Homo sapiens: one gene and its partners. The protein of the gene in region 1 interacts with the protein of each later gene in a pairwise test. Each region holds a gene or a part of one and is shown in the gene's direction. Other genes may lie near its edges.

Region 1 (4,454 bases):
AATGCTTGGGATTGTGTCTAGGAGGCACTCAGTAAGTGTTAGTTAATCAATTGATTTGCCTCAAACACAGAGAGAGATCAGTAGAACTAGTCCCTTGAAAAGAAGACCCTTATAGCTCTTTCAGGAGTAGGTCAGGAAAATGGCGGCAAAATCTTGTGCCTCCAGCAACGGTTCCTCCTTTGGTGTGGCACTTCATGACTCTGTGAGGTTATAGCCTCCCTGCCCAGCTGAGCGGTGATGCTCGCCTGGCTCCCACATCCTCTGTGCTGCCCTCTATTTTGGGTCACCCTGACTTGGTCTGTTTCCTGTCTTATTCACCAGCTAAACTATAATTTCCTTAAGGGTACTTTTATTTGTGGGCCCAGCACTCCGTACTATGCAGTGGGCCCATCTAGGTTTCTTTATTGAATGATAAGATTTTTGTAGAAAGTGGACCTTATGACAACCATTGACAAAAGCAAATGGCTACTCAACCACCCCAACCCCTCACCACCCCTCACCACGGTACAATGGATTTTATTACAAATTGCATACACCAGATAATTCTAATCTGATGTGAAGGAATTATTTTGCCTTTCTTCAGATTCATTCTCATGACATCAAGTTCATTTGAAATTGCATAACATCTTCAGGAATTCATTGGCAGGCTGCCTGGCAGTTGGATAATCATTTAATATATCTTTCTCTCTCCTCAGTTAATAACGACATGATAGTCACTGACAACAACGGTGCAGTCAAGTTTCCACAACTGTGTAAATTTTGTGATGTGAGATTTTCCACCTGTGACAACCAGAAATCCTGCATGAGCAACTGCAGCATCACCTCCATCTGTGAGAAGCCACAGGAAGTCTGTGTGGCTGTATGGTAAGCAAGCCTTTTAAGAAGTTATTCTTTCTTTTCCCCTTTTTACATAATGTATTCTCATAGTACACACAGTCAGTGTATCTCTGTCTCCTAAATGTAAACACCTGTTCCATTTCCCTTTCCTTTAGACCATCTCTCTTTCGATTATTAAATGTAGTTTCTAGGGGTGTTCTCTGCATGTATGTGTACGTTTATGTGGGTATATAAACGTATCATGATTATAAAATGATCATGATAAATGTAAAGATCATAAAATGATCTTTAATATAATAAATCTGGAAACTCTTTCTTGTATCAAGAAGAGGGATTTGCCGCTTAGTAGTCATTTAACCGACACCTCCTCAGCACCCCATAGTGAGACCAGGAGCTTTGTTCTCTTGAGGCAATCTCAGGTCTGGAAGAAGAGGTGATGAAAGGTTGGCTGTTGGAAGAGAAAACTACCAGCCAAAAATGGGGAATCTACTTGGAGAACCACAAAAACAACCTGTTTTTTTAGTCAGAAATTCTGGTTATATTATTCATATAACCATTGGGATAGATATGACTTCTTTCTCTCAGCTCAGAACTACATATTTCTTTTTTTTTTTTGAGATGGAGTCTTGCTCTGTCATTCAGGCTAGAGTGCCATGGCACAATCTTGGCTCACCGCAACCTCCACCTCCCAGGTTCAAGCGTTTCTCTTGTCTCAGCCTTTCGAGTAGCTGGGATTACAGGTGCCCACTACCACACCTGGCTAAGTTTTGTATTTTTAGTAGAGACGGGGTTTCACCATGTTGGCCAGGCTGGTCTCGAACTCCCGACCTCAGGTGATCCACTCGCCTCTGCCTCCCAAAGTGCTGGAATTACAGGCATGAGCCACCATGCCCGACCAGAACTATATATTTTTATCGGATCACATTTTCTCCTCTCTCTCTCTCTCTCTCTCTCATTCCCTCCAACTCATACATACATCTCAAATAATAATTATACATACACAGTGGATACTCATGAATCATTTGATTAATTCATGGTTATAGATTGTGAGCATGAACAAGAAATAACCTTGATCTTTAGAAGAGTTGTAATTTTACAAAAGTACATAAATTCATTAATGAGATATGACATTTTGCAGACTTATTCTGATGTTTTTAATTTATTGGCCATTTTAAAAAAAGTAACTTATGTGTCTCCTGGCTAGTTGACAAACAAGAATATAAACCCAAATATCTCTCCCCCTTTTTTGGGAATGAGTCATTTGAGACCCCTAGACCATGTAAAGCTAGCCTTGATGATAGATCTGGAAACCTTGCAAACTTCTGTACATACCACGGGATGAACTGGTTTCTTAAGAACTGAAGGAATGTTAACAGCAAAGACTTGTCATGACATACTTGCCAATATGATATGATACCTGTCCATGTCCACTTCTAGGTAACGCTTTCAAAGAAAGGATTTGGACAAAGAATGTGTTCAGAGGAGAGGGACCAGTGTGGTTAGAGGCCTAGAAATCATGCTGTCTGAGGAATGGCCTGGGCAATTAGACATGGTTAGTACAGTGAAGAGAGATCGTGGGTTCTGCTGATGAAATTGAAAGGCTCTCAGGTAGAAAATATAATAAACATATTCTGCATAACTCTGAAGGGTAGAGGGAGGATCCATAACATTTGCAAGGCAGGCAGACTTGTGCTCAGCATAAGTTTAGACATTTTCACAATCATGGTTTCCCAACAGCAGAACAGGCTTCCTTTTCTGTAAGCACCAAGTGAAGTTCAGGAGAGGCTGGATGACCATATGTCAAATAGAATGCAGGAAAGATTGAGACACCAGACTAGATGGCCTCAAAGCTTCCTTCCGTGGTTTCTTAAATATCTACGGTGGTGTGAGCACTTGCTTTTGCAACCCAAAAAGGCTCTTTTAATTAAGATTTTTGTTTTCCTGACCAGTAATACAAGCCCAAATCATTAAATGTGAATCAAGTCTCTCTAGAATAGAGGCTTTGCTAGCCTCAAAAAAATGTGAGCATGTCGAAGAGAGGAGGCCTCCCTGTCTTTTCTGTGTCCCAGCTATAAAGGGTAAATACAATGAACATTATTTTGACCTGTGCTGGCCAAAGAAAATTCTCCCGTGAAGCCAGGGGTGTTGATAATGAGAAGGGGAAGTATAGGGTACGCTATAGTGCCCTCCTTGATCCTCCTTCATGACCAAGGCACTCATTCCCTGGGAGTGTTGGCTGTTGAAGGATCACTGCTGAGCCTTCCCTCCAGTGATGGGAGCTGCCTCATTCACGTTGGACACTTTTCATGGGTAGCCATCATCCCATGGCTAGTTGATGCAGAGAAACAAATTCCTGGTTATTTTGCCATAATGTGGTACATCTTTGAAGGACATCCCATTTTCAGAGTTTCCAAGGCATTCACTGAGGCCTTTGCTGCAACCTGCATTATAGTTTAGCTTTTTCCTTCTGTGCAATACTGTTGCCTTTAGTCGCTTACAGATGCATCTCCAAAAACCTCCTGCACAGAACTCTCACAGCCTCAAGGTCTGTTTCCAGGAAACCTAAACTAAGACAGGAGGCTATTGTAAAAATAGCCAGTGTGGAAACTGAAAGGCTCTACTATGATTGTAGATTTCAGTGTTGTTGTTTTTTTAATCAGTTTTAGTGTTTTTTCATTCATTCATTCATTCATTCATTCATTTAACTAATGTCAGTTGTGTGCCCATTCCATATAAAATGCTTAAGCTGCCTCCAAGGATAGAAATATTTTATAACCAAAATTATTATTATTATTATTTTTAAATTGAGAGGGAGTCTCCCACTGTTGCCCAGGCTGGAGTGCAATGGCGTGATCTGGGCTCACTGCAACCTCTGCCTCCCGGGTTCGTGCGATTCTCCTGCTTCAGCTTCCTGAGTAGCTGTGATTACAGGTGCACACCACCATCACGTGGCTAATTTTTTGTATTTTTAGTAGAGATGGGGTTTCACTGTGTTGGCCAGGCTGGTCTCGAACTCCTGACCTTGTGATCCGCCTGCCTCGGCCTCTGAAAGTGCTTAGATTACAGGCATGAGCCACCGTGCCCAGCCTCCAAAATTAATTTTATCATGTTGGTTCTTCTTTCAGTGGAAATTGACAACCTCTTCAGTGGCTCAGAGCAAATGTTGCAGGACAAAAAAAGAAGTCCGTATTTACTTCTTTGTATTTACCTTTCCTATGCTCAGCTATATCCAAAAAGAGTTTGAAAAGTTAGCTGTGCCTGGCTGTTACAGGAGTGAGTGGAGAAAGCAGTTAAGGGCTTTACCAGGTCTCAAGTATTACAGTTGTTTTCTCTCTGTGATGTTAGTTCTCTCAGTAGCTAAGAGGTAGAAAACCGGAGGCTCTGGAAGAGCTGCCCAATAATTATAGAGCAGCTTTCTTTCATGGCTCACAGTTCCTTCTTAGGCCTCTATAAGCGTCACAAGGAAAAGAGACCATGCCTTTCTGTGGGCACAGCATACCTTCGTTTTATTACCCAAACCAAAAACAACCTACACACACACACACACACACACACACACACACACACACACACAAAACTGTGGGGGCAGGGAGGAAGGTGTTCTTGTTCCATGACTA
Region 2 (5,193 bases), on another chromosome or scaffold:
GAAATGAGTCAAAGTGAATAGAAGAGGTATAAGTGGAGGAGGATGAATTCAGAGTAAATATGTCATCTAGGAAATCTAGGTCCCTGCAGTGCTATGTGTAGCTATGGGCAGAGATGACTACAGCTGAGTAGAGGAAGCTGCATTCAGTTCCCCATGAGAAGTAAAACAACACTTAGAGAAACTTACAACCATGATGACAGAAAGATTTTACAGCAACTTAAGAAAAGCAAAAAGACAAAATGGTTCAGAAAAAAAAAACACCTAAGAAAAATCTATAAGGAGCTGATAAAAATGTGCCATAAACTAGATATGGAGCTGCTCCAGGAAAGAACCAATAATATGCCTAAAAAAATTTTGTAGTATTTGAAGTTCATACCTTACAACAAGCTTGCCCAACCCACGGTCCGTGCGGCCAAGGACGGCTTTGAATGTGGCCCAACACAAATTCCTAACCTTTCTTGAAACATGAAGAGATTTTTGTTTGTCATTTTATTAAAGCTCATCAGCTATAGTTAATCTTAGTGTATTTCATGTGTGGCCCAAGACAATTCTATTTCTAATGAGGCCCAGGGAAGCCAAAAGATTGCACACCCCTGGCTTAGGTGATATTATTTATTCAACACCATAGATATGTGTGTGTGTGGGGGGTATATATATATGTATATGTGTGTATACATACATATATGTACCATATATATCATATATGTATCTCCTGCTTCTAAGAGGGAGGAACTTTTCCAAATAGAAATAACATAGGTGAAATGTAATTCTTATCCTAACCATGAACAAGCAAGCTTTTTTGGAATCTTTGAGTGGATGTAATTTTATATTCCCCTTTATCAAACACTGACCACAGGGAATATTCCCCTCTAATAAGCTTCTTTTGTAGCTTTTTTCTGAAAAACTGGACAAATGTAATGTGGGAGTCAGACAGCATGTGTCACTAAGCTGAGAGCAGTGACATATGCAGGTGACATTCGCATGTCCTGGCAGCATTGTCCAGCAAAGTCTTCCTTTCTTTGGGGATGGACCCTCCCTCCTCACCTGGAGCAGCTCCACGTCAGGCATGAGGCACGTCTCCCACAGCTCTCTGTACATGTCTTTCATCCTTTCTAAATGTTGGGTCATTCTCACTTGACTGTCTTGTAGTTGTTGGAAAAGCTATTTGGCTTCGCTGTCCAGTGCCTGCAGATGAAGTTGCTTCTCCTCATCGAGAAATAGATGCATCTTTTGATATTGAATATTGATTATCACCTTACTTAATGACACATAGTTCTGCGGAGACATTTGGTTAAAAGGATTACATACTCTCACTCTCAACAGAAAACTTCAAATAATTATATGCTGGGTGTAATCAAGCAATCTATAAACTTTCTGCCTCACTCTTGCAAGGAGTCTTGAATATTTGTTATTTCTTTCTGTCCTTCTTTTTCAATGTTCCTATTCTCTCTCCCTCTTTAAATCAAAACCTATATAAAGACTTCTAGTTTCTCTTCCTGAGATGCTTCTTCACAGTTCTTACTGAGTCAACTATCTCCTCTATTAATCTCCCTTTTAGGATTTTTCCATGTCTGATTCGCCTAAATATTAAAAAACATTTAGCCATACACCATATTATGCAGATTGATTTTTCCTTTTACTGTATTTTTACTCTATATACTATTTTATATACTATTCTATTTCTTTCCTCTTCCTTACACCCAATCTTGGTGAAATGTCTCATCTCCAGTGTCTGAAAAGGTTTATACCAACCTTCAAATTTGAACTAGAATACATATCATACCATTTATCCAATAAACTAGAATTAATTTGGTTAGCTTGTGTGGGCTTCTCTATTTGCAATTCCTATTATATCAATTATATCAAACCCCCTCTCTACTAAAAATGCAAGAAAAAAACTAGCCAGCGACAGAGCCAGACTCCTTTCAAAAAAAATAAATAAATAAAGATAAAACTTCTGTTCTGAAGAAACTTAATCATCTATGTTAACACCCACCTACGCCCTGTGAAATGCAATCAATTGGAAGAAAGGGGTGTGGTCTTCAGAGATTTATAAACCGACACTTCAGGAGCCAAGCTCATTCTTCTCCAGAGCCCACAGAGTAGCTTTGCAACTGGCTTTGGGGACTTCCGAAAGCTACCAGCACTGCACTGTGAGACTCTCATCCCTGAGCTGAATTCATCTGATTCGACGGCAAGCTTTGGTGAGAACATAGATATATTTCTGAGGTAAGTACACAATTTCCAGAGTAGGAGCTACTATTAGGAGCTACAAACCAAAACAAAATTTGGGGACTTTAATTTATCTGCAAACTTAGATTATTTTTAGATGAAATGATCTCATTTTCTGAGTTTTAAAAACGGCTCCATTTCTTTTTTAAAATTATTTTAAACATAATCCATAGGTTTATGGATTAAACATGGGCCACCATGTTCAGCTATTTATTTATTTGTTTATTTATTTATTTTGAGATGGAATCACGCTCTATTGCCAGGCTGGAGTGCAGCGGCGCTCTTGGCTCACTGCAACCTCCGCCTTCCAGGTTCAAACGATTCTTCAGCCTCGGCCTCCAGAGTAGCTGGAAATATAGCCGCCTGCCACCACGCCCAGCTAATTTTTGTATTTTTTTTTAGTAGAGACGGGATTTCACTATGTTGGCCAGGATGGTCTCCATCTCTTGATCTTGTGATCCGTTCACCTCCGCCTCTGAAAGTGTTGGGATTACAGGCCTGAGCCACCGCGCCCGGCCTTTTTTTTTTAAATTTATATAAGTATTTTTAGAGACAGGATGATCTAGACACTTTGCCGTGTCACCAGTCTAGAGTTCCTGAGCTCAAAAAACCTGCCTGACGGCCTCCCAAAATGCTGGGATTACAGGCTTGAGTCACCTTCCCTGGCTTGGTTTTTATTTTTATTTGTATTTTAGCAAAACATACATTTAAAACGCTGACTTACTGTCTAGTGCCTAGTTTTTGTTTTTTTTTTTTAGAGGGGAGACAGAGTCTTGCTCTGTTACCCAGACTGGAGTGCTGTGGCACTATCTCGGCTCACTGCAAGCTCCGCCTGCCGGGTTCACGCCATTCTCCAGCCTCCGCCTCCAGAGTAGCTGGGACTACAGGCGTCCTCCACCACTCCCGGCTAATTTTTTGTATTTTTTAGTAGAGTTAGGGATTCACCATGTTAGCCAGGATGGTCTTGAGCTCGTGACATCGTGATCTGCCTGCCTCAGCCACCTCGGCCTCCCAAAGTGCTCGGATTACAGGCGTGAGCCACCGTGCCCGGCCTCTAGTGCCTGTTATTGCATGATACTTACTCTTTTCCTGACTGTGTGAAAGAGTAATGATAATGCTTCAATTATCATTATCTTTTTGTAAATTGAATTAATTGTCTTTTAAGGATGTTGTAATATTAACTAGTATATCCCCAAATTAACAGACTGTCCAGGAACAGTAAACATGCCAGAAAGTTTTTGTTGATTAAATTAACATAGTAGCCTAGAAAAACAATGATTCTTAGCTTTACCTTGGAGAGGTGCCTTACCTTGATTTGACTGTTTTTCCTTGGAGAGTAAAGGCTAGCTTTTTCTGATTTGGGTCAAAGTATGAGTTCTGCTCTAACATTTTCAAGCAATGTCCTTCTGGAAAAGTCATTATGGATGGTTGTTATAGTTAAATAAAATAATGAGAGTAGAAGAGCTTAGTTAGCTTTCCTTCTTTAAACCAATCACTGGCAATTAAGAGTGTTACTGATTTTCAGACCATTCAAGACTCAAACCTTGAGTTTACAGGTTGATGAAACCCTTGAAGCCCAAGCAATTTGGTGGATACTAACACCTCAAAAAATCCGACATTCTTCCATGCAAGAAAGTAGAGTTTGGAAAGCTGGTCATGTGTTGATTGGAGAACAGTCACTTTTTATAGAGGTTGATGTCTCTTTGTGCCTTAGTTTTCTGTTTTTCCTATTTCTGTCATTGCAGATTAAAGCCTATACTTCTTTAGAAAGAAAGGATATTATTCGATCACGATCTGATTCAAACTTTGCTTGGATCTTTGTCTCTCCAGGGTAGAAGATTAAATTCCTGTGGTTTTCTTTCCTTAGGAAAATGGACTCAGACTTCTCACATGCCTTCCAGAAGGAACTCACCTGCGTCATCTGTTTGAACTACCTGGTAGACCCTGTCACCATCTGCTGTGGGCACAGCTTCTGTAGGCCCTGTCTCTGCCTTTCGTGGGAGGAAGCCCAAAGTCCTGCAAACTGCCCTGCATGCAGGGAACCATCACCGAAAATGGACTTCAAAACCAATATTCTTCTGAAGAATTTAGTGACCATTGCCAGAAAAGCCAGTCTCTGGCAATTCCTGAGCTCTGAGAAACAAATATGTGGGACCCATAGGCAAACAAAGAAGATGTTCTGTGACATGGACAAGAGTCTCCTCTGCTTGCTGTGCTCCAACTCTCAGGAGCACGGGGCTCACAAACACCATCCCATCGAAGAGGCAGCTGAGGAACACCGGGTAAGAGATAGCTCTGTGATCACCTGAAAGCTGGAGGGTGGCAGAGTTAAAGATATTAGAAGGATGATGAGAATCATGGTGATTACTCCATTCTTTACTGAGTGCCAGGTGCTGTTCTAGGTACCAATGATGACATTTTGAATAAAATGTGCAACTCTACCTTCCTTCATGGAGCTTGCACCCAAAAAGAGACTGATTAAGTAAATGTCATTATTATTGACTCTACAGTTCAATGCTAATGACATTGAAAAGCTACCAAAACTACCAGTGCAAAGAAAGGTATTTTGGAAATATATTTAATATTACTGGACAAATGAGTATGGGAGTAGCACACTACAAAATCAGGGGCTAGCATAGTGGGTTCTGAAGCAGGATGTTTCCCTGAACTAATTTAGCTGGGTTACAGGAAATCTTCACTCTTCAGTTCCCTAAGCTGTTCTACATTCTGAAACCTCAAACTGAAAAATATCAATTAAGGATGAGCAATGAAAAATTTTGTTTTTTTCTCCTCTCACTAATGTATTTATATATTATCCCTTGCCTGTGTATACCACTCAGATTGTGGAATCTTTGGCATTTGACTTTCTGTTGTTCAACCTTGTAATTCTTTTGCAGGAGAAACTCTTAAAGCAAATGAGGATTTTATGGAAAAAGATTCAAGAAAATCAGAGAAATCTAT
Region 3 (4,454 bases), on another chromosome or scaffold:
TAAGATGCGATATCCTTCCCTGACTTTCTCTTTTCTTTCAACCTGTCATCTGACTCAGGATTGTGCTTTGACTCTGTTGTTGCAGCTTCCTCTTCCAGGCCTTCTTGTTCTTGCCTTGTGGCAATAGCTTTGGGGCTTCTGACTGCAGTTCTTCTGAGTGTGCTGCTATACCAGTGGATCCTGTGCCAGGGTAAGTGCAAACTTAAACCAAAATTAATCTTTCATTTTATATTATAAAAGCAATATAACATAGCAGAAGCTTTGAAAAATCAAAAAATAATTCAAACAAAATAACTCTCCATCTGTATACAGCTATTTCCTGGGTATAGCCTTTGACCATGTGCACTTGTGTAAGCTTGTATTTTCTTTTTTCTTTTTGTTTTTTGAGACAGGGTCTCCCTCAATCAGCCAGGCTGTAGGTGATAGATTTGTGTGCTGCTATACCAGCGGATCCTGTGCCACTGTACAGTCACAGCTCACTGCAGCCTTGACCTCCTTAGGCTCAAGTGATCCACCTCAGCCTCTCGAGTAGCTGGGACCACAGGCACATACCACCATGCCTGGCTAATTTTTGTATTATTATTATTATTTTTTTTTTTTTGTAAAGACATTTCACCATGTTGCCCAGGCTGATCTCAAACTCCTGGGCTCAAGCCATTTGCCCTTCTTGGCCTCCCAAAGTGCTGGGATTATAGGTGTGAGCCACTGCACCTGACCATATTTTCTTAATAGAACTGCAGTCAAGTCCTCTTAAAATTTCTCCCACCTTTCTTTCTTTTAATGCAAGGCTGAGAATAGTTCTTATCGTAGTATGCTCATAATTTTGTATATTGCTTTTTAATTTTATGTTGCCAGAAACATTTCCTTACTGCCATATTTATTGGGATGATTGAATTATAATATTAATGATGTTTAACTTTTCACATAATAGATATATCATAATGTAATGAAACATTCTGAATTTTTTTTTTTTTTTTTTTTGCCATTCAGGTGCTTTCACATTTTCTAAAACTAATTTTTAAGTTTAGTTCTTCTAGGACCTTAAATCTGGTGATCTAGAGGACTCTCAGTTTGTTGTTTTACAGTCTAGAGTCCTAGCTTAGGTTTATATTTTTAGGGGATGATAGTGACCGATTACACAGAAGTGATTTATTAGGGTTCTTTTTTAAATTTTTTTAAAAATTTTGAGACAGAATCTCGCAATGTTGTTTGGGCTGGAGTGCAATGGCGTGATCTCGGCTCACTGCAACCTCTGCCTCCCAGGTTCAAGCGATTCTCATGCCTCAGCCTCCCGAGTAGCTGGGATTACAGGCACCTGCCACCACGCCCAGCTAATTTTTTGTATTTTTATTAGAGACGGGGTTTCACTATGTTGGCCAGGCTGGTCTCGAACTCCTGACCTTGTGATCTGCCCGCCTTGGCCTCCCCAAGTGCTGGGATTACAGGTGTGAGCCATTGCGCTCTGCCGATTTATTAGGATTCTAAGAGTTCAGCTCCAGGGCTTCTACCTCAGAGCCAAGTCCGACCTTTGACAAAAAGGAACTCCTAGGGAAGTTGGGAATTTCTAATCCAGGCTGAGTAATGTCACAGTTGTATGGAAAAAGCAAAATCTATAAGGTGCCAATTTAACAGCTTGATCTCCAGAACTTATATTGGTTGTATGCCAGTACTTCCTAGAGAACAATTATCTAATATTTATATGAAAAATACTACTTTCCCCACTTTGTAACTCCCAAATCTAGAGTAGATATATACTCTATTCTGCAATTATATATCTACACATGTGCTCATGGAGTATAATGGCTCATACTTGCTCACTGTAGAATTGTGCTTATGGCGAGTTTATGCACATATGTTTAAGTATTGAAACTGAAGTAGAAAAATCAATAGAATTTTGGAATCTTGGTTGGAATTACCTTGAAAGCATATTCAGTTCCCTTTCATCTTTGATTGTTTGTTTTTGAGACAGTGTCTTGCTCTGTCGCCCAGGCAGGAGTGCAGTGGTGTGATCTTGGCTCACTGCAACCTCTGCCTCCTGGGTTCAAGTGATTCTCATGCCTCAGCTCCTAAGTAGCTGGGATTACAGGCGGGTGCCACCATGCCCAGCTGATTTTTTTGTATTTTTAGTAGAGATGAGGTTTCACCATGTTGGCTAGACTGATCTTGAACTCCTGGCCTCATGTGAGCCACCTGCCTCGGCCTCCCAAAGTGCTGGGATTACAAGAGTGAGCCACCATGCCTGGTCAGTTCCCTTTCATCTTGACAGAACTATGAACCAACCATTTTAAAGGAATGTGGATCTTCCGTATTTAAAAGAGCTCGGTTAGGGCATTCTATCACTTTTCACTTTAGCACCTGTTATGCTTCTCTGCCAGAAAACCCTTTTGAAAAATATCAAAGTAAGTTCTTTTTGCTGAGGTATAAGGGTTTTTTTCCAGTTTTCAATGGTGAGGGACAGTTACATCTGTGATAATAAAAAAGCAAAACCTTTCATTCTAGTTAAGTTTGCTTTTCCTAATTTCTTTTTGGCATTTTCAGTTGGGCATTCTGAATGATTCTGCCTGATTTAAGCAATATACATTATGCAATTATGCAATATATACACAGAGCAAAGACAGTACACAGATGCATATCATATGAATTCACAGTTATCTGGTGTGTGTATATTACATGTGCACAGAGATCTCTAGCACAAGTCAAGTACTTGCTCCAGAGTTTTCAGGCAGATTGTTGTATGCTTTCTTCTTTGTTCCTTCAGTTATAGTCATATTCTTGTGTAGTGGAATATATACTTAGTAGATGATGGAGTTGGACATTATGAGGACATTATGAGGTATTCAAATTGACACCACGCATTGTTACACATTTCTCTAACCCTTAATCTGAAAAGTGGTGGAGCAGGGAAGACCCAGGGCTGCCATATTCCATTTTATCTCCCATTTCATTTCCAAGACTGAGTGGTCCATAAAGATGTGAACCAGGTCCTCTTCTCTCCTAGGCTCCAACTACTCCACTTGTGCCAGCTGTCCTAGCTGCCCAGACCGCTGGATGAAATATGGTAACCATTGTTATTATTTCTCAGTGGAGGAAAAGGACTGGAATTCTAGTCTGGAATTCTGCCTAGCCAGAGACTCACACCTCCTTGTGATAACGGACAATCAGGAAATGGTAAATGCAAACATTTAGAAAATGTAGGGTTTTTGTTTTGTTTTTGTTTTTGTTTTTAAACTGCTATTTAAATGTATCATGTATCCTCTTTTAAGGAACAGAAGGAATCTGTGATTTGGGGGGGATACTATATTCTTCCCCTTCCCTCTTCTTCTCTTTCCTCTTCTACTTCTGCCTTCTTCCCTCTCCCTCCCCACTCTTTACCCTTATGCTGTCTGACCCAACAAACCTCAGTTACAGCAACCCAGATGCTTGTATAGCATGTAAGTGTGTATGTGGGGCAAGGAGGCAGAAGGATGGTGAGTGTTTTGGAGAGGAATGAGACCTGAAATACAGGTCTAGTTAAAAGAAGTCTTAGGTCCGGAAACCTACAGGTCCAACAACAAGGCAGCAGATTCTTTTTTTTTTTTTTTTGACAGAGTCTCCCTCTGTCATCCAGGCTGGAGCACAGTGGTGTGATCTTGGCTCACTCCAACCTCCGCCTCCCAGGTTCAAGCGCTTCTCCTGCCTCAGCCTCCCAAGTAGCTGGAACTACAGGCGTGTGCCACCATGCCTGGCTAATTTTTTGTATTTTTAGTAGAGATGGGATTTCACCATGTTAGCCAGGATGGCCTTGATCTCCTGACCTTGTGATCTGCCCGCCTCGGCCTCCCAAAGTGCTGGGATTACAGGCATGAGCCACCGTGCCAGTCCTTATATAGTGGAACTTGGGAGGGAGGGAAAGATAGAGATCACGGGGACAGAGTGATTGTGGCAAGGGCTTAAATGCCTTCTTTTAAAAAGTTTTCCCTTAATTCACTGGAATCCAATAAGTTCCAGACTGCAATGTTGAGAAAGTTGGGATATAAGGAAGAAAACACGCGTGCACGTGCATGTGTGTGTGTGTGTGGTGGCCTCCACTTCCTTCAGGCCCCTCAGATCCTTCCTATCCACCCAGCAATCTCTTGGAAAAGAGCTTGCTATTGGTCCTAGACCATCTCAAGGCAATACAAGGAACTGACATCCTGAGGTTGCCTAGTATAAAAATCAATCAAATTCTAATTTGTCAACATAAATAACATCTATAAGGAAAACAAGAAATCTTAGTTTTGTGTTAGTGCTAATTTGATACTGATTTTTGTGTTTTGCTATTGTTTTCTGTTTTCTTTTATTGGGTAGGATCTAGTCACAGAGAACAATTTATTGAGAATTAAACTATATTAACTTACCTTGGGAAAAATCCAGAGGTTACTCTAAAGCAGTGGGGGAGAACATATAGTTCCTAAATTTTATAGCTACCTATATAA
Region 4 (4,454 bases), on another chromosome or scaffold:
TCAACCTCTGCCTCCTGGGTTCAAGCAATTCTCCTGCTTCAGCCTCCTGAGTAGCTGGGATTACAGGTATATGCTACCACACCCGGCTAATTTTTGTGTTTTTAGTAGAGACGGACTTTCACCATGTTGGTCAGGCTGGTCTTGAACTCCTGACCTTGTGATCCTCGGCCTTCCAAAGTGCTGGGATTACGGGTGTGAGCTACCGCACCTGGCTATTTTCCTTTTTCTAAAAATCTAGCTCCTGCAGGATTCTGTGGGTTTTTGTTTCTGCTGTCTGGTTGCTTGTTTTTATGTGAGAATTCAGGTAGACATAAAAACTCTAGGGCTGGGCACGGTGGCTCACGCCTGTAATCCCAGCGCTTTGGGAGGCCAAGGCGGGTGGATCACCTGAGGTCAGGAGTTCGAGACCAGCCTGGCCAACATGGCGAAACCATGTCTCTACTAAAAATACAAAAAAATTAGCCGGGTGTGGTGGTGGGCTCCTGTAATCCCAGCTACTCGGGAGGCTGAGGCAGGAGAATCGCTTGAACTCAGGAGGCAGAGGTTGCAGTAAGCTGATATCACGGCACTGCACTCCAGCCTGGGCGACGGAGTGGGACTCCGTCTGAAAAAAAAAAAAAAAAAAGAAACAAAAAAACTCTGCAGCCACTGTCATCTGCCCACAATCTCCCCAGCATTCTCAGCTTCCTTGTTTGTTATTGTCGGCCCCCTCTCTTTCCGTCTTTTGCCCCTTTCATCATACTTTTGCTATCTACCTTTTCCTTCTCTCCTAATCCAAACCTTTCTTTTTGCCCTGGGGGCCATATTAATCCAAGGCTTTTGTATCAGATTAACTGGGTTTGGATTCCTGCCCCACTGTTTTAGGATCTTTGCTACAGTACTTTGCTTCTGCTAAGCCTCAGTTTCCTCATTAGTAAAGTGGAGATAATAATGGCATTAAATAAAGATGATACATGCAAAGCCCTTAATGGAGAGCCCAGGACATAGTTAATTGCCAGTTTCCGGCAGCTGCCTTTATTGATGTGGCTGCTAATTGCTCTTCCTCACTCCATACCTGGCCCTGTCCTGGGCTCCGATCCAGTTTCACGTGGCTGCCTTGCCCTTGTGGCTTTCTTGGCACCCCTCCCCCCGCTGTGGCTTCATTCTGGGTGGGGAAGTGGCAGGGGCCACCTGGCTTGAGCAGGACAGTGGCATTGTGTCTTCCAGGATCGACTGCGGGCCACCTGCACACTCTCAGGGAACCGGGACACCCTCTGGCATCTCTTCAATACCCTTCAGCGGCGGCCCGGCTGGGTGGAGTACTTCATTGCGGCACTGAGGGGCTGTGAGCTAGTTGATCTCGCGGACGAAGTGGCCTCTGTCTACCAGAGCTACCAGCCTCGTGAGCGTCCTGCCCTTGCCCTCCTGGACCCCCAGCCTGCTCCCTGGCCTCCGCTCTCCTTTTCTCTCTCCCTGTACTTCCTGCCTTTCTCTGTCATCCTCTTTCTTGTCACTGTGAAGCGATGAATAAACCTGGGTGTAGATCCAGGCTGAGCCACTTACCAGCTGTGTCCCTTTGGCCAAGTCCCTTAATTTCCCTGAGCCTCAGGCCTCTCTTCTGTAAAATGAAGCTCATGGCAGCATCTGCCGCGGGGAGCTGCAGTGGGTGATACTGCGGGACGATGCGTGTTGAGTATTGAGCTGGGCTGGGCACTTCCTGTATGCCCAGCACATGGAGTCTCCCCTAACTTTCACGGCTGTAGCATTCGCCTCCCACCCTTCCTCATTTCTTCTCCCCCACCTACTCATTCACCCTCCCTCTCTCCTCCTTCTCTTCCCCTCCCCTGGTTTACCCTGAGAGCCTTCGACGCCCTCTATCAGCTGCCCAGTTATTCTTTAAGTCCCTCTCAGTGTCCCTGCCACTCTGAGTGCTCGGAGGCGATTTGATGAGATTGAGTTTGATCCTGAGTGAGATCAAGACATGGGAGGAGGCTGGGCGCGGTGTTTCACACCTGTAATCCCAGCACTTTGGGAGGCCGAGGCAGGCGGATCATGAGGTCAGGAGATGGAGACCACCCTGGCTAAAACAGTGAAACCCCGTCTCTACTAAAAATACAGAAAATTAGCCGGGCATGTTGTCCCAGCTACTCAGGAGGCCGAGGCAGGAGAATCACTTGAACCAGGGAGGCAGAGGTTGCAGTGAGCTGAGATCGCGCCACTGCACTCCAGCCTGGGCGACAGAGTGGGATTCCATCTCAAAAAAAAAAAAAAAAAGACATGGGAAAAAAAATCAAGCCAGCCCTATTTATATTTCAAACTAGAGGTAACCCCCGAGACCCTGGTCACATTTATAGCTGTGGGACATCCATGTTTTTCTTTTCTTTCTCTCTCTTTTTTTTTTTTCCTTTTAGAGACAGAGTCTTGCTGCGCCACCCAGGCTGCAGTGCAGTGGTGCAATCATAGCTCACTGCAGCCTTGACCTCCTGGACTCAAGTGATCCTTCTACCTCAGCCTCCAGAGTAGCTGGGACTACAGGCATGGACAACTACACCTGGCTAATTTTTAAATTTTTTGTAGAGATGACATCTCACTATGTTGCCCAGGCTGGTCTCAAACTCCTGGGCTGAAGCGATCGGCCTCCCAGAGTGCTGGGATCATAGGTGTGAGCCACCGCGTCTGGCTCTCATGCTTGCTTTTCTCTCCTTTTTCCCTTCCTTGCTTTTCCTCCCTCCCTCCCTCCCTTCCTCTCTTCCTTCCTTTTTTTCCTTCCTTCTTTTTAAATATGTCTCTTCATGTGTGGAGATTAATAGTGATCCCTGGCTGGGCACGGTGGCTCACGCCTGTAATCCCAGCACTTTGGGAGGCCGAGGCGGGCGGATCACAAGGTCAGGAGTTCGAGACCAGCCTGGCCAATATGGTGAAACCCTGTCTGTACCAAAAATACAAAAAAATTAGCTGCGCATGGTGGTGCAAGCCTGTAATCCCAGCTACTTGGGAGGCTGAGGCAGGAGAATTGCTTGAACCGGGGAGGTGGAGGTTGCAGTGAGCCGAGATTGCGCCACTGCACTCCAGCCTGGATGACAGAGTGAGACTCCGTCTCCAAAAAAAAAAAACCCAAAAATAGTGATCCCCTGAATACAATGGCTGTGGTAGGGCCTGATGAGGGGTGGGGGCAAAGGGGAGGGGCTCAGGTGGCAGCATCAGGGCAGGGGTCAGTGAGCAATGATAGTCATGTGGAGGAGAAAGCCACTGGGTCCTAGGATGCCTGGGGACAGAGAAGAGTGACTGCTGACACGGCGTGGGTGACTAGAGACCCACGAGGCCCCCCCATACTCCCCTTCCTCCCTTGCTACCTTGTCCTCCATCTGCTCTCACCCTCCCACTCCTGCCCCCTTGCCAAGTGATGCTTGTCACTCCTTTTTTTTTTGAAATGGAGTTTCGCTCTGTCGCCCAGGCTGGAGTGCAGTGGTGCCATCTCAGCTCACTGCAAGCTCCGCCTCCCGGGTTCACGCCATTCTCCTGCCTCAGCCTCCCGAGTAGCTGGGACTACAGGCGCCTGCAACCATGCCCGGCTAACTTTTTGTATTTTTTAGTAGAGATGGGGTTTCACCGTGTTAGCCAGGATGGTCTCGATCTCCTGACCTCGTGATCCACCCGCCTCGGCCTCCCAAAGTGCTGGGATTACAGGCGTGAGCCACCAAGCCCAGCCCTGCTTGTCACTCTTGAGGAGTGGGCCCACATCAGAACAGCTTTTGGACCTATGGGTGGGGCGGGGGGTGTACCCAAGAGCACCCAAGCCTCTTTAATCATGAGGAGAACCCCCAATTCCTTTTTTTTTGAGACAGAGTCTTGCTCAGTCGCCCAGGCTGGAGTGCAGTGGCATGACTTCGGCTCACCACAACCTCTGCCTCCCGGGTTCAAGTGGTTCTCCTTCCTCAGCCTCCCTATAGTCCCTGATTCCTTCTATTTTTTTTTTTTTTTTTTGAGACGGAGTCTCGCTCTTGTTGCCCAGGCTGGAGTGCAATGGTGCAATCTCAGGTCATGGCAACCTTCACTTCCCAGGTTCAAGCAATTCTCCTGCCTCAGCCTCTCGAGTAGCTGGGATTACAGGCATGCGCCTCCACGCCTGGCTAATTTTGTTATTTTTAGTAGAGACAGGGTTTCTCCATGTTGGTCAGGCTGGTCTCGAACTCACGACCTCAGGTGATCCACCCACTTCGGCCTCCCAAAGTGCTGGGATTACAGGCGTGAGCCACCACGTCTGGCTTCTTTTTCTTTTTTTCCCCCGAGACGGAGTCTTGCTCTGTTGCCCAGGCTGGAGTGCAGTGGCGCGATCTCAGCTCACTGCAACCTCCGTCTCCCAGGTTCAAGCAATTCTTCTGCCTCAGCCTCCTGAGTAGCTGGGATTACAGGTGCTTGCCAGCACGCCTGGCTAATTTTTGTATTTTTAGTAGAGACGGGGTTTCACTATGTTG
Region 5 (3,500 bases), on another chromosome or scaffold:
GAATACATCTTGATCTGAAAGACAACAGAAAAGCTGGTGAAGGGGTGATTCCAAACTGAAAAAAACAAAACAAAACAAAAAAAACCACATTTTGGAAAGAGTTACCCTCAGAATTGACACTAATAGAGAAAACTTTTGATTCTGAAAAAAGAAAGTGTGCCTGTTTGTACATACCCACAGAGTGTGGGTTTACAAATGGCAGATGTTGAGAAGAGCACTCACCTCACTTTCTTACTGATTGCATCATCTTAAAAAGCTTGAAGATGCTCAAATGAACTCCATCCTAAGAATTTCTTCAAATCTGTGTCACATTCTTATTTTCTTCCATCCCTCTCATTCACACACAGCATTGGTAGAAAGGAAGCTGTCCAACAGATCTGTGATTAGCACTGAGGGGAAGGAGAGGAGAGAGCAGTGGCTTGTTAACTGGTTCAGATAAATAGGTAGTTTCTTGTGTTTAGAGAAGCAGTTTAGCATGCTTCTCTAAAATTGAGAGTTGGTTAAGAGCATAGACTCTGCAAACAGGCTGCCTGGCTTCAAATCTTGGCTCTACTGCTAACTAAATATGTGACCTTACACAAGGCCCATAACATTTGGTGCCTCAGTTTCCTTACCTGTAAAATGGGACTGATAATGAAAATAACTACTAATAGGATTGTGGAGAGCATGAAATGAGTTAACATATGAAATGTGCTTTGAGTAGTGTCTAGAATGTAGAAATCATTATACAAATGTTAGCTCTAGTTTTTATTCCTTTGATTAGTGGGTGTTCCCTTCCCATGTGGAGTTCTCTTGTCAAGTAAGTATGTGGGACTTAGCCACCCTGAGAAGCAGAAGGGGGGTGCTGTGGTTCATGTTCATGGCTTCTTCCCCTTGCCTGCTCTGCAGCACCAGTTATATAACAAACTGTGTTGTCATAACTGATGTGACATTTTTGATGGCGCAGCTGCTTCAGCCCAAGAGCTGGGGTGACATTTCAAAGGGTGGGAAAGAGCACTGAACCAGGAGTCCAGGTCAGTAGCTCTGCCTCTGCCCCTCCGAGGGCTCGGTTTCCTGAAAGAGTTGGACCAGGGCTACCCCAGGCTCCCTTCCTGTTGTCAACGGTGTATGAAATTGGGAATTCCCTTTGTTTTCAGGGTCTTGATGTTCTCAATATTAAAGCATGAATTATGGTTTTATCCCATGGGGGTGTAGGGTATCCATGAAAGTTCTTTTAAGACTAAGTTAATTGCAGAATAGCAACCTCAGCCACAGAGCTTTGTCAGCCAGGAAATTTGTAGTTCTGAGAGTCAATTTGAGAAAAACACCTCTAACCAAACTTTTCATGCAGACATGGTTCTTAAACCAAAGAGGAGGATCTGAAAGTATCTCATTAGTAAGAAACAGGATGTTTCTGGGAGGAGAGAGCCAGTGACATTAGAAGAGAAGTGGTTTTTCCGTGGCTTCCAGGATGCTCAGAAGTGGAGACAGCCCTAGCGTTCACCAGAAATGGCTGCATATGAAGAAACTTGCCTGGGTTAAGGTGCCTAAAACCCAGGGAGCAGAGAGATTTGCAGACTAGTAAAAGGGGAGGCTCAGGAGAACTGTATTTTAATTTTGATTCACTCTCTCATTTAACTTTGGGCAGATCATTTGGCCACCCTGGGCCTCAATTTGTTCATCTGTTAATTGGGATGTGGGTTTTCACCATAGAATTTCTCAGGGCTCTTTCGGGTTTCCAGCTCTAAGATGCAGTAAATGCAAAGAGAAACTTAGAAGCCTGAAAGGCGGTGGGGAATAGTGGGAGTATTTACCACCCACAGCTTTTATCTGCTGAGCCATCTTTAGTTCTAATTTTCTTTACAGAGAAGAGGAAAAACATTGTGCTTTTCATAGCACCAAAAAATTAAAGTAAAATAAAATCTTGCAAGGCTAATAGTTGGTGCCCTGAATTTGGCCCCTTACTCTCTTGATTTGTCAACCATCCTAGAAATAAGTAGAATGGAGAAAAGAGAAAGGGAGAATAATACATAAGACTAGGATTTCATAGCTAACAATTTACCTTGGATTCTCTGCCTGTGTCTTAGCCAACAGATAGGTTTTCTGTAGAATATTGTTACTTATGAGAATAGCTTCTCCATGCTTTAAAATTGATCCTGGGGTCACCTGACCCCAGGGTCTCAGAGCACTAATGCATATTGCACATTGTGAATTAATTAGGTGTTTATTTGTCTGTATCCCTTGCTAGCCTGGGTGTCCCTTCCCACCAGGGCTCCCTGAAGCAAGGATGTTACTTATTTTTGCTCATAGTACAGCACCATGCCCAATGCCTGGCACAAAGGAGGTCTTAATAAACGTTAGTTAAAGAAAAGGAAGAATACGAGGTATATAAGGAATGAACCTTATTATTCTCCATAAACCAAAATAATCATGTTGAAAGCTTTTGGTGGCCATGGAATGTGTTCATCATTTTCAATCTATTATATTCATTTGTTTATCAACCTGTGAGCAAATATAGTCATCAATTCCATTTTACAGATGAGGAAGTGAGGTTCAAAGAAGTAAGGTGGCTTGCTCAAGGCCACACAGCTTAGTAGGTGACAGTGTTGTATTCAGACAATGATTTGTCTAATTCTAAAACCTGTGTTCTTTTCGTTGTAACTCCACACCTTTCTTACTAGACCACCCCCAGTATGGGCAGTAGAGACCTGGCAGTCTACGACCTCACACCCAGATGTTGATGGTGCCAGCTGTGGTTGAGGTCAGTGGCTGAGAGAATAGAAAGTGCCTAATTGGTGCTGAGTTCCTTCTGGAGGTGGTAGTAATGGTCATCATATATCACATTGATTTGGATACCAGAGTATTCCCTAGCAACCATCTGGACAGGCCTTGAAATGATTTTTCATTACCGCCTCAAAAATGGGGGCCATTTTCAGATTGCAACAGAGAGAAGGCTCTGGCTTTGGTGGAGGCAGGTGTCTTGGAGAACTATGGAAAGACAGGATGGTAGGGGATCCATCCATCTGTCCATCCATAAGCATTTATGATTGCCTATTTTGTGGGTAGCATACACACAGTGTCATGGAAGTAGAGAGGAAGGCCTCAGTCCTTGTCCTGAAGGAACTCATGGTCTGGAGGGAGCTACACAAAAAAGACTCTTGCACTTCAGGTAGGAAGGGCCACAATGTCTGTATACACAGTGTGCTATGGTAGAACAGAAGGCACCTTCTCTAGGCAGGAAGTTCAGGGAAGACAGCCAAGAGACAATGGCATGTGAACTGAGCCTTTAAAACAAGTGGTAGTTCACCAGGTCGAAAAAAAGGAATGCCAGGCAGAGGGACTGGCATGTGTAAAGGCATTAAGATGTCACCACATGGAACATGCTAGGAGTGTAAAATAGTTTGATTTGACTAGAGCAAAATATGTAAGAGGAGTGTTAAGAAATGAGGAATGAAAGATTGGACAGAAACCAGATCATGAAAGGCCTTATCTATTGTGCTAAGGACTTTGGATTTTATTCT
Region 6 (4,965 bases), on another chromosome or scaffold:
TTCATTTTTTTCAGATTGTAGGAAAATGCCTAGTTTCTTTCTAGGGAAGTAACAAGGGAAGAGAAGCTTCTTTGATTCTAGTTAGGAGAAAGCAGTTCTTTCATTTAATCCTTATTTTACAACTACTAAAAGCCCAAGATATTTCTTCCTATTTATTTATTTGTTTATGAGGCAGAGTCTTACTCTGTTGCGCAGACTAGAGTGCAGTGACACAAACACTGCTAACTGCAGCCTCAACCTCCTGGGCTCAAGTGATCCTCCCACCTCAGCCTCCCAAGTAGCTGGAACTGCAGGCATGTGCGACGACACCTGGCTAATTTTTAAATTTTTCTTGTGTAAGGATAAGGCCTCGCTATGTTGTTGTTTTCAAACTCCTGGATTCAAGCGATCCTCCCACCTCCACCTCCCAAAATGCTAGGATTACACATGTGAGCTACTGTGCCTGGCCAATCCTGGCACTTTGGGAGGTGGAGGTGGGAGGATCACTTGAGCTCAGGAGTTTGAGACCAGCCAGGACAACACAGCAAGATCTGTCTCTATCTTAAAAAAACAAAAGGCCGGGTGCAGTGGCTCACGCCTGTAATCCCAGCACTTTGGGAGGCCAAGGCAGGCGGATCACGAGGTCAGGAGATTGAGACCATCCTGGCCAACATGGTGAAACACCATCTCTATTAAAAATAGAAAAACTAGCTGGGCATGGTGGCGCATGCTTGTAATCCCAGCTACTTGGGAGGCTGAGGCAAGAGAATTTCTTGAACCCAGGAGGTGGAGGTTGCAGTGAGCCGAAATCGTGCCACTGCACTCCAGCCTGGGCGACAGAGCCAGACTCAATCTCAAAAAACAAACAAAAACCCAAGTGCTGAGATTACAGGCATGAGCCACCACACCTAGCTCTATTTAATTATTTTACTATTTTAATTTTATTTATTTTTTTCCTAGACAGAGTTTTGCTCTGTCACCCAGGCTGGAGTGCAGTGGCCCTGTCATGGCTCACTGCAGCCTAGACCTCCTGGGCTCAAGTGATCCTTCCGCCTCGGCCTCCAGAAGTGCTGGGATTACATGCATGAGCCACCGCACCGTCTGTTTTCTTCCTTTTTAACATTCTCCTGATTCTACAACGCTTACATAGGAGAGCTGCAATTCCTCCTCTTGGGGTACAAATTTATGAGTGCAGGTGCAGTTTTGTTACATGCCTAACAAGATTGCATAGTGGTCAAGTGGACTTTTAACCAAATGGGTTGTCAGGGCTGATTGCCAACATCTGGACATTTTAAATTACCAATCTGAAAAGGGAAACAGCTCTGTGCTTGTTTTGCATTTTGGTGACTATTGGTAATGGTTTTCTGTTTTGATATATTCAATCTGTTCAATCTGTATTAGTGCCTACTCTGCCACTGTGTTGGGCGGGAATCTGATTTTGTTCTTTGGTTGGAGATCCAAGTTAACCAGAGCTTAGGCATTTTAAGATAACTACCTCAGCTTGATAGGAAAGCTTGCTCTGCCCGGGGTTGAGGGGTACGGGTCTGAGGGCAACAGAATCGACAGCCTCAAGTGGGCAAAGGGTGGCCAAACAGGAGTGGCCTCCGACGTCACTGTGGCGCGCCGCTTCCGGTCTGCAGCCTTGTAGTGGGGCTGGAGCAGAGCCTGCCGCGAACCCCCGGAGCCCACGATCCCTCGTGCCATCCCTCGAATCCACCAGCACGAGCGTCCCACCCGCGCCTGGGACCATGGCCACTGACTCATGGGCCCTGGCGGTGGACGAGCAGGAAGCTGCGGCTGAGTCGGTGAGTTGGCTTCAGCCCTAAAAGGGTCAGGGGACTAGTTCTGGTCGGAGACTTGGTCCCTGGGAAAGAATGTTTCCCAGGTTGATTAGAGGCTGGATGGGGTGGCGGGGAGGATAGGGATGGAGCCTGGACCCTGAGCTGGCTTTGTTTACGCAGCCGCCTCCGCGTTACGTAAGCGCAGGTGAGTGCTCCTATCGGTAAAGCGCTCAGCTGCCTGTCTGTCTTCCTGGAACCAGGAAGAATCATAGATTGCACCCATCACCCTAGATTGTGTTTTGTTTGTTTTTAATTGAAATAGAGACATGGTCTTGCTAGGTTGCCCAGGCTAGTCTGGAACTCCTGGTCTCAAGCTATCTTCCTGCCTCGGCCTTTCAAAGCACCAGGATTACAGGCTGAGCCATTGTTCCTGGCCGCCCCGGTTTGTAATAGTTATTTTAGGTGTCATTCTCCACCTCTACATTCAGAGCTTCTTTGGCTCAGGGACCATGTCTTTGCTCATATTTGTGTGCTTCCTCAGTGATAAATGATGGACCCAGTAGGTGTGGCAGTCAGCAAATCCTTTCCTCATCGGCTTCACTTTGTTCTTTTTTTCTGGACCTGACACATGGTAAGCAAGAGATGTGTTAAACACTACTGCGTAGAATTAATTTCTCCCACCGAAACACTTTAAATCCTAGTAGGCTTTGAACCTACTTCTGTTAGTACTTATTGCTATGACTTCCTCAAGAATAAGAACCTTGTCTTTTATTTTTTATAGCTCATAAAAAATAAGTTGTATATACACATTGTTTAAAGAGTGAAGTTATTTTAAAAACAACGGTTCCCGCCAATTTTTTTCCTCCCCAGAGGCAACTCCTTTTTTTTTTTTGGAGACAGGGTCACACTCTGTTGCCCAGGCTAGGGTGCAGTGGAGTGATCTTGGCTCACTGCAGTCTCTGCCTCCCAGGCTCAAGCCATCCTCCCACCTCAGCCTCCTGAGTAACTGGGACTGTAGTCATGTGCCACTATGCCCAACTACTTTTTGTATTTTTTTTGTAGAGATGGGGACTTGCCATGTTGCCCAGGCTGGTCTCGAACTCCAGCGTGCAAGTGATCCACCTGCCTCAGCCTCCCAAAGTGCTGGGATTACAGGTGTGAGCCACTGCATCCAGCCTCTTTTTTCTGTTTCTTTCTTTCTTTACATATATTTTTTGAGAGAGGGTCTTGCCCTGTCACCCAGGCTGGAGTGCATTGACACCATCTCTTGCCAACTACAACCTCCCCTTCCCAGGCTCAAGTGATCCTCCCACCTCAGCTTCCTGAGTAACCGGGACTACAAGCATGTGCCAACATATGCAGCTAACTTTTTAATTTTTTGTGAAGACGAGGTCTCACTATATTACCCAGGTTGGTCTTGACCTGCTGGGCTCAAGCCATCCTCCCACCTCGGCCTCCCAAAGTGTTGGGATTATAGGCCTGAGCCACTTTGCCTGGCCCTTTACTTTTCTATAAAATTTATTTTACTTGGAATTCTTAATTGCCTTATGTTTATGCTTCATTTTTTTTTCTTAATTATCAATTCAACCCCAAACTGTCTTCCAGTTGTCTAAGTTTATCTCAGGATGCTTAGACTCATCAAGTATTCTATCAATTCCATTTCTCCTAGGCCTTTAAGTCTGCTTCAAATTGGACTAGTTACTCCTGTCTTTAGAGCACAGTTCATATTGGGGAATAGAGGGAACAGGGCAAATTTCCCTTCAGCCTCATTCTGCAGATTCCTTCCTCCTTTCTCTTGTCTTTTGGATCTCTTGGATCCCTTCCTTTCTGTACCCCTACTTTTCCATCTTTCTTGATTTATTCCTTATTTTAGTGCAGCCATCTGTCAGCTTTCTGGAGGTGTACGGGAAGTAAATTACTTTAAGAATATTCCATGTCTTAAAAAATCTAACTTTGCCCTGTAATTTGGATAATAGTTTGGCTGGGTATAGAATTGTAGGTTGAAAATTATTTTCCTGCCAAATTTTAAATGTATTGTTCCATTGCCTTCTAGATTTCTGTATTTGTTGTTGAAATGTTTGAGACCATCCTGATTCTTGATGTGACTTGTTTTCCCCTTTCTAAGCTTGGAGAATCTTCTGTTTGTCTTTAATATTCAGAAAATTTATGGTAATATGTCTTGGTATGGGTGTATTTTCATCCATATTACTGGCCCCTGGGTGTGGGTACTTTCAATCTGAAAAACTCTTGTTCTTCAGTTATGAGAACTTTTCCTGAATAATTTCATTGCTGATTTCTTCTTCTTTGTTTTTTCTTAATTCCCTCTTTTCCAGAACTCACTTTCTCTCTTTCTTTCTCTCTCTCTCTTTTTTTTTTTTTTTTAAGACAGTGTCTGTCTATGTTGCCCAATTTGGAGTGCAGTAGCTATTCACAGGCAGAATCATAGTGTACTACAACCTTGAACTCCTGGGCTCAAGTGATCCTCCTGCCTCAGCCTCCCTCGTAGCTGGGACTACAGGTGCGCACCACTGCATAGCTTTTCCCAGAACTCTTATTAGATGAATGTTGGATCTGTTGGACTGGCCCTTTAATTTTTTTTTTTTTTTTGAAATGAAGTTTCGCTCTTGTCCGCCAGGCTGGAGTGCAATGGCACGATCTTGGCTCACTGCAACCTCTGCTTCTTGAGTTCAAGCGATTCTCCTGCCTCAGCCTCCCGAGTAGCTGGGATTACAGGCATGTGCCACCATGCCTGGCTACTTTTTGTATTTTTAGTAGAGGTGGGGTTTCACCATGTTGGCCAGGCTGGTCTTGAACTCCTGACCTCAAGTGATCCGCATGCCTCAGCCTCCCAAAGTCCTAGAATTACAGGCGTGAGCCACCACACCTGGCCAGCCCTTTAATTTTTTTAAAAGTCAGGTTTATGGAGGTATAATTTACACAGAGTAAAATTAAACTTTGTTAGTGTACAGTTCTATGAATTTTGACAAAAGCATACAGTTGTGTAACTACCACCACAGGCAACACATAAACCCTCTCTACAAAGAACTACAACTTCTTGTAGTTCACTCCCTCTCCTCACCCTTCTCTGGCAGCTGCTGATATGTTTTCTGTCATTATAGTTTTGCCTTTTCCAACATGTCATAAAATGGAATCATATATATAATATATAACCTTTTGAAAAGTCTGGCTTCTTCCACTTAGTATT
Region 7 (4,454 bases), on another chromosome or scaffold:
AAGAAGTCAAACTATCTCTCCTAGGAATCCCTAAAGACTGCCAAAGACTTTTGGAACTGAAAAATGACTTCAGTAAAGTGTCAGGATACAAAATCAATGTACAAAAATCAGTACCATATCTTTACACCAATAATGTTCAAGCTGAGAGCCAAATGAAGAACATAGCCTAATTTACAGTACACACACACATACACACACACCCCTTGGTTTCACCTCTAACCAAGGAAGTAAAAGGTCTCTACAAAGAAAACTACAAAACGCTGCTGAAATAAATCATAGATGACAGAAACAAATGGAAAAACATTCCATGATCATGGATTGGAAGAATAATAAAATGGTCAAACTCCCCAAAGCAATCTACAGATTCAATGCTATTTCTATGAAGCTACCAATGGCATTTTTCACAGAATCAGAAAAAACTATTCTAAAATTCATATGGAAGTAATAAAGTAATAAAGAGCCCAAATAGGCAAAGTAATCCCAAGAAAAAAGAACAAAGCCAGAAGCATCACATTACCTGGCTTCAAACTATATTGTAAGGCTACAGTAAGCAAAACAGCATGGTACTGGTACAAAAACAGACACATAGACCAATGGAACAGAAGAAAGAACCCAGAAATAAAGCTGCATTCCTATAGCCAGCTGACCTTCAACAAAGTAAACCAAAATCAGCAATGGGGAAAGGACTCTCTACTCAATAAATGGTGCTGGGATAACTGGCTATCCATATGCAGAAGAATGAAACTGGACCCCTACCTTGTTTGATATGGAAAAATTAACTCAAGATGGATCAGAGAATTAAATGTAAGACTTCAAACTATAAGAATCTTAGAAGAAAACATAGGAAACACCATTCTGGACATTGACTTTGGGAAAAATTTATGACTAAGTCCTCAAAAGCAATGACAACAAAAGCAAAAATTGCAAGTGAGACCTAATTAAACTGAGTAGCTTTTGCACAACAAAAGAAACTATCAACAGAGTAAACAGACAACCTACAGAGTGGGAGAAAATATTCACAAACTGTGCATCTGACAGAGGTCTAATATCTAGAATCTATAAGGAACTTAAACAATTGAACAAGTAAAACACCAATAACCCCATTAAAAATAGGCAAAAGAAAGACATGAATGGACAGTTCTCAAAAGAAGACATACAATTAAAAAAAAGAAGACATACAAGCAGCAAAAAAAAAAAAAAAAACATGAAAAAATGCTCCACATCACTAATTACCAGAGAAAGGCAAATCAAAAATCACGAGATACCATCTCATATAAGTCAGAATAACTATTATTAAAATTTAAAAATATTTGGGTGAGGCTGCAGAGAAATGGGAATGCTTATAAGCATATATACACTGTTGGGAATGTAAATTAGTTCAGTCACTGTGGAAAGCAGTTTGGAGGTCTCTCAGAGAGCTTAAAACAGAACTACCACTTGACCCAGCAATCCCACTACTGGGCATATATCCTCAAAAAACAAATTATTCTACCAGAAAGACACATGCACCCGCATGTTAATTGCAGCACTATTCACAATAGCAAAGACATGGAATCAACCTAGGTGCCCATCAACAGTGAATTGGATGAAAAAAAAAAAGGTACAAATACACTATGGAATACTATATAGCCAAAAAAAGAACAAAATCATTTCCTTTGCAGCAACATGGATGCAGTTAGAAGCCATTATCCTAAATGGATTAATGCAGTATCAGAAAATCAGATACCACATGTTCTCGCTTATAAGTGGGAGCTAAACAACAGGTACTAATAGACATAAAGATGGCAACAATTGATACTGGGACTGCTAGAGTGGAGAGGGAGGTTGGGGGAAAGGGTTGACAAATGAACTGTGGGGTACTATGCTCAGTACCTAGGTGACAGGATCAACTGTACTCCAAACCTTATCATTACACAATATAACCAGGTAACAATGTGTATATGTACCCCCTGAATCTAAAATAAATGTTGAAAAACTCTCAAACCCAAATTAAATATACATAAATAAATTTACATTTTATTAAAAATGTATTACTACTCTAGATTTGCCTTACAGGAAAGTCAAAACTTATTTTAAGCTTAGCCTATGATTATATACATTTGTACGTACAAGTTTAAAAATATCCAAAGTCATAAAATTTAACAAAAAAGGTAAAAGCTACTTACTGGGCATTTATGCTTCACAAACTAGTATTAACAGCACCTTTCACTTTGAAATACTTTTTTTCGAAGTGAAAAACACATTTTTCTTATTTATCTCAGCCTCTTATCACACTTTTGTTTGGTTGCACAAGAATGTCATCACATTCTTTACTCATGGCAATGACATTGATTCTGCTGATTTAACACCTTTGCTTTACTGAAAGAGTATTGGTGACTAAAGGAGGACCATTATTGCTCTTTAAAAAATGTTTAATCATAAATAGATGTGTCCAGGGATATCTTAACTGTATGAGGTATGATAGGCTTGAAATTATAAAGCACAGCTTTGGAATACACCCCTCCACAATCCTTAACCACTCAGAAAGTCTTACGTTAATACATATTATTTTTTGAACTTTATGAAAACTGCATTGAATAATTATCACACTTCCTACACACCAACTTGTATTTAATGATTTATGGAAACATTACTAAGACAAAAGAAGGACATAGCCTTCACTTGACTAATTCTAAGACCAAGGCTCCCTATGTTTTAACTTCTGTAAACTCTCACTGCCTGAATAAATACCTTAGGTATAATGAAGCGTAGGCAAATAATAGATTATAAATAAGTTGACCGAGGTCAAGAGAGGCATTTAACCTATTTAACCTATTTGGGAAAACAACCCATTTTCAAATTTTTAACAGCAGTAAATGGTAGAAAAGTATACTAATTAGAAATAATCATTTACTAAAGCAAATCTTTGAGGAAGTCTAATGAGTAGTTTCTTTAGCCAATTGCTTGTATTAAAGGACTGGAATAACTTTTGAATATTCAGAATTTTCACAAGTTCAGACTTCCTTCAGTTGGCCCTATTTAATGAGTTTTTATGCTGCATCTTGTATTTCTGAAAATTGAGTTTTTGTTTGTTTTGAGGCTGAGAATTTTGAGAACTGTCATTGTCAGACCAATGTCTCAGGAATCATTAGGAAAACAACTCGGGGTGGGAAGGTGGTTAGATGATGTCGTTGAGTGATCTTTATGGAAGGGAAATTTGTGAGAGATTTTCTAAATAAAGATGCAAGATTTTCATTGCTTTAGATATGCTAAATTTTTTTCCTGGAATCAGTCAGACCTTGAGATAGCTCTTTACCCAGCTTGTGTTATTTTGGTCCCTGCAGAAGTGCTTTTGCTGATTTGTGCTTACCTGTTATAATATTGGCTGGCATTGAGAAACTTGACATTGTATTAAGTTCAAGGATGTTATTTCTCTCTCTTTTTTATTATACTTTAAGTTGTGGGGTACATGTGCAGAATGTGCAGGTTTGTTGCATAGGTGTACACATGCCATAGTGGTTTACTGCACCCATCAACCCGTCATTTACATTAGGTATTTCTCCTAATGCTGTCCCTCCTCTAGCCCCCCAGCCCCCCAGCCCCCGACAAGCCCCAGTGTTTGATGTTCCCCTCCCTGTGTCCATGTGTTCTCATTGATCAACTCCCACTTATGAGTGAGAACATGCGGTGTTTGTTTTTTTGTTCTTGTGTTAGTTTGCTGAGAATGATGGTTTCCAGTGTCATCCATGTCCCTGCAAATGACATGAACTCAAGGGATGTTATTTCTTGTGCTGATCACTGTTTTTAGAATCTGTATTATGAGGATCTCATGGATAAATTTCTCTGAAATGTCGCTAGCCAAAATGAACAATGTCACTCATGGAACTCATTGTGTTTTCCACTATGGGTAGACAGGAAGTCTCAGAACTAATGTTGAGCTCACTTCTTGCTCAAGGTTATGTCATCATAAGTCATGCACTTGATTCATTTTGTTTCTCATATTCTTACTCTTTCTTCTCACTGTCTCTCTTTATACACAGTCATGCATTGCTTAAGTATGGGGCTACATTCTAATAAATGTGTCATTAGGTAATTTTGTCATGCAAACATTGTAGAATGTACTTATAGAAACCTAGATGGTGTAGCCATATCTAGTTATACACATAGATAGGCTATATGGTATAGCCTATTGCTCCACTCCTAGGCTATATATCTGCACAGAACACCACTGTATTAAATACTCTAGACAATCATAACACAATGGTAAATATTTGTATATCTTAACATAAAAATGGTACAGTAAAAATACAATATCATAATCTTATGGGACCACTATTCTGTATGTGGTCTGTCATTGACTAAAATGTCATTATGTGGCACATGACTGTACTTTGTTTTGCTGAATTGTATTTATTTTTATAAACTACTTAAAATATTTTTTGAAACAAGATTAATAAATAAATAAATAAATATTT

Evidence for each region.
Region 2: the proteins of TGFBR2 (region 1) and TRIM43 interact in binary tests that used the Homo sapiens proteins (3 or more experiments, as listed by UniProt).
Region 3: the proteins of TGFBR2 (region 1) and KLRG1 interact in binary tests that used the Homo sapiens proteins (3 or more experiments, as listed by UniProt).
Region 4: the proteins of TGFBR2 (region 1) and MAVS interact in binary tests that used the Homo sapiens proteins (3 or more experiments, as listed by UniProt).
Region 5: the proteins of TGFBR2 (region 1) and GNAO1 interact in binary tests that used the Homo sapiens proteins (3 or more experiments, as listed by UniProt).
Region 6: the proteins of TGFBR2 (region 1) and DDX19B interact in binary tests that used the Homo sapiens proteins (3 or more experiments, as listed by UniProt).
Region 7: the proteins of TGFBR2 (region 1) and SLC44A5 interact in binary tests that used the Homo sapiens proteins (3 or more experiments, as listed by UniProt).

Annotation. Positions count from the first base shown.
Region 1 is NC_000003.12:30,644,052-30,648,505, forward strand, and holds part of TGFBR2 (TGF-beta receptor type-2 isoform B precursor), read left to right. Parts: intron 1-695; coding exon 696-864; intron 865-4,454. UniProt on the Homo sapiens protein: Transmembrane serine/threonine kinase forming with the TGF-beta type I serine/threonine kinase receptor, TGFBR1, the non-promiscuous receptor for the TGF-beta cytokines TGFB1, TGFB2 and TGFB3.
Region 2 is NC_000002.12:95,589,921-95,595,113, forward strand, and holds the start of TRIM43 (tripartite motif-containing protein 43), read left to right. Parts: upstream 1-2,080; 5' UTR 2,081-2,229; intron 2,230-4,099; 5' UTR 4,100-4,103; coding exon 4,104-4,514; intron 4,515-5,129; coding exon 5,130-5,193.
Region 3 is NC_000012.12:8,992,121-8,996,574, forward strand, and holds part of KLRG1 (killer cell lectin-like receptor subfamily G member 1), read left to right. Parts: intron 1-85; coding exon 86-190; intron 191-2,998; coding exon 2,999-3,168; intron 3,169-4,454. UniProt on the Homo sapiens protein: Plays an inhibitory role on natural killer (NK) cells and T-cell functions upon binding to their non-MHC ligands.
Region 4 is NC_000020.11:3,856,429-3,860,882, forward strand, and holds part of MAVS (mitochondrial antiviral-signaling protein), read left to right. Parts: intron 1-1,206; coding exon 1,207-1,381; intron 1,382-2,390; exon of another isoform or gene 2,391-2,514; intron 2,515-4,454.
Region 5 is NC_000016.10:56,197,989-56,201,488, forward strand, and holds part of GNAO1 (guanine nucleotide-binding protein G(o) subunit alpha), read left to right. Parts: intron 1-3,500. UniProt on the Homo sapiens protein: Guanine nucleotide-binding proteins (G proteins) function as transducers downstream of G protein-coupled receptors (GPCRs) in numerous signaling cascades.
Region 6 is NC_000016.10:70,297,571-70,302,535, forward strand, and holds the start of DDX19B (ATP-dependent RNA helicase DDX19B), read left to right. Parts: upstream 1-1,615; 5' UTR 1,616-1,727; coding exon 1,728-1,784; intron 1,785-4,965. UniProt on the Homo sapiens protein: ATP-dependent RNA helicase involved in mRNA export from the nucleus.
Region 7 is NC_000001.11:75,600,503-75,604,956, reverse strand, and holds part of SLC44A5 (choline transporter-like protein 5), read left to right. Parts: intron 1-4,454.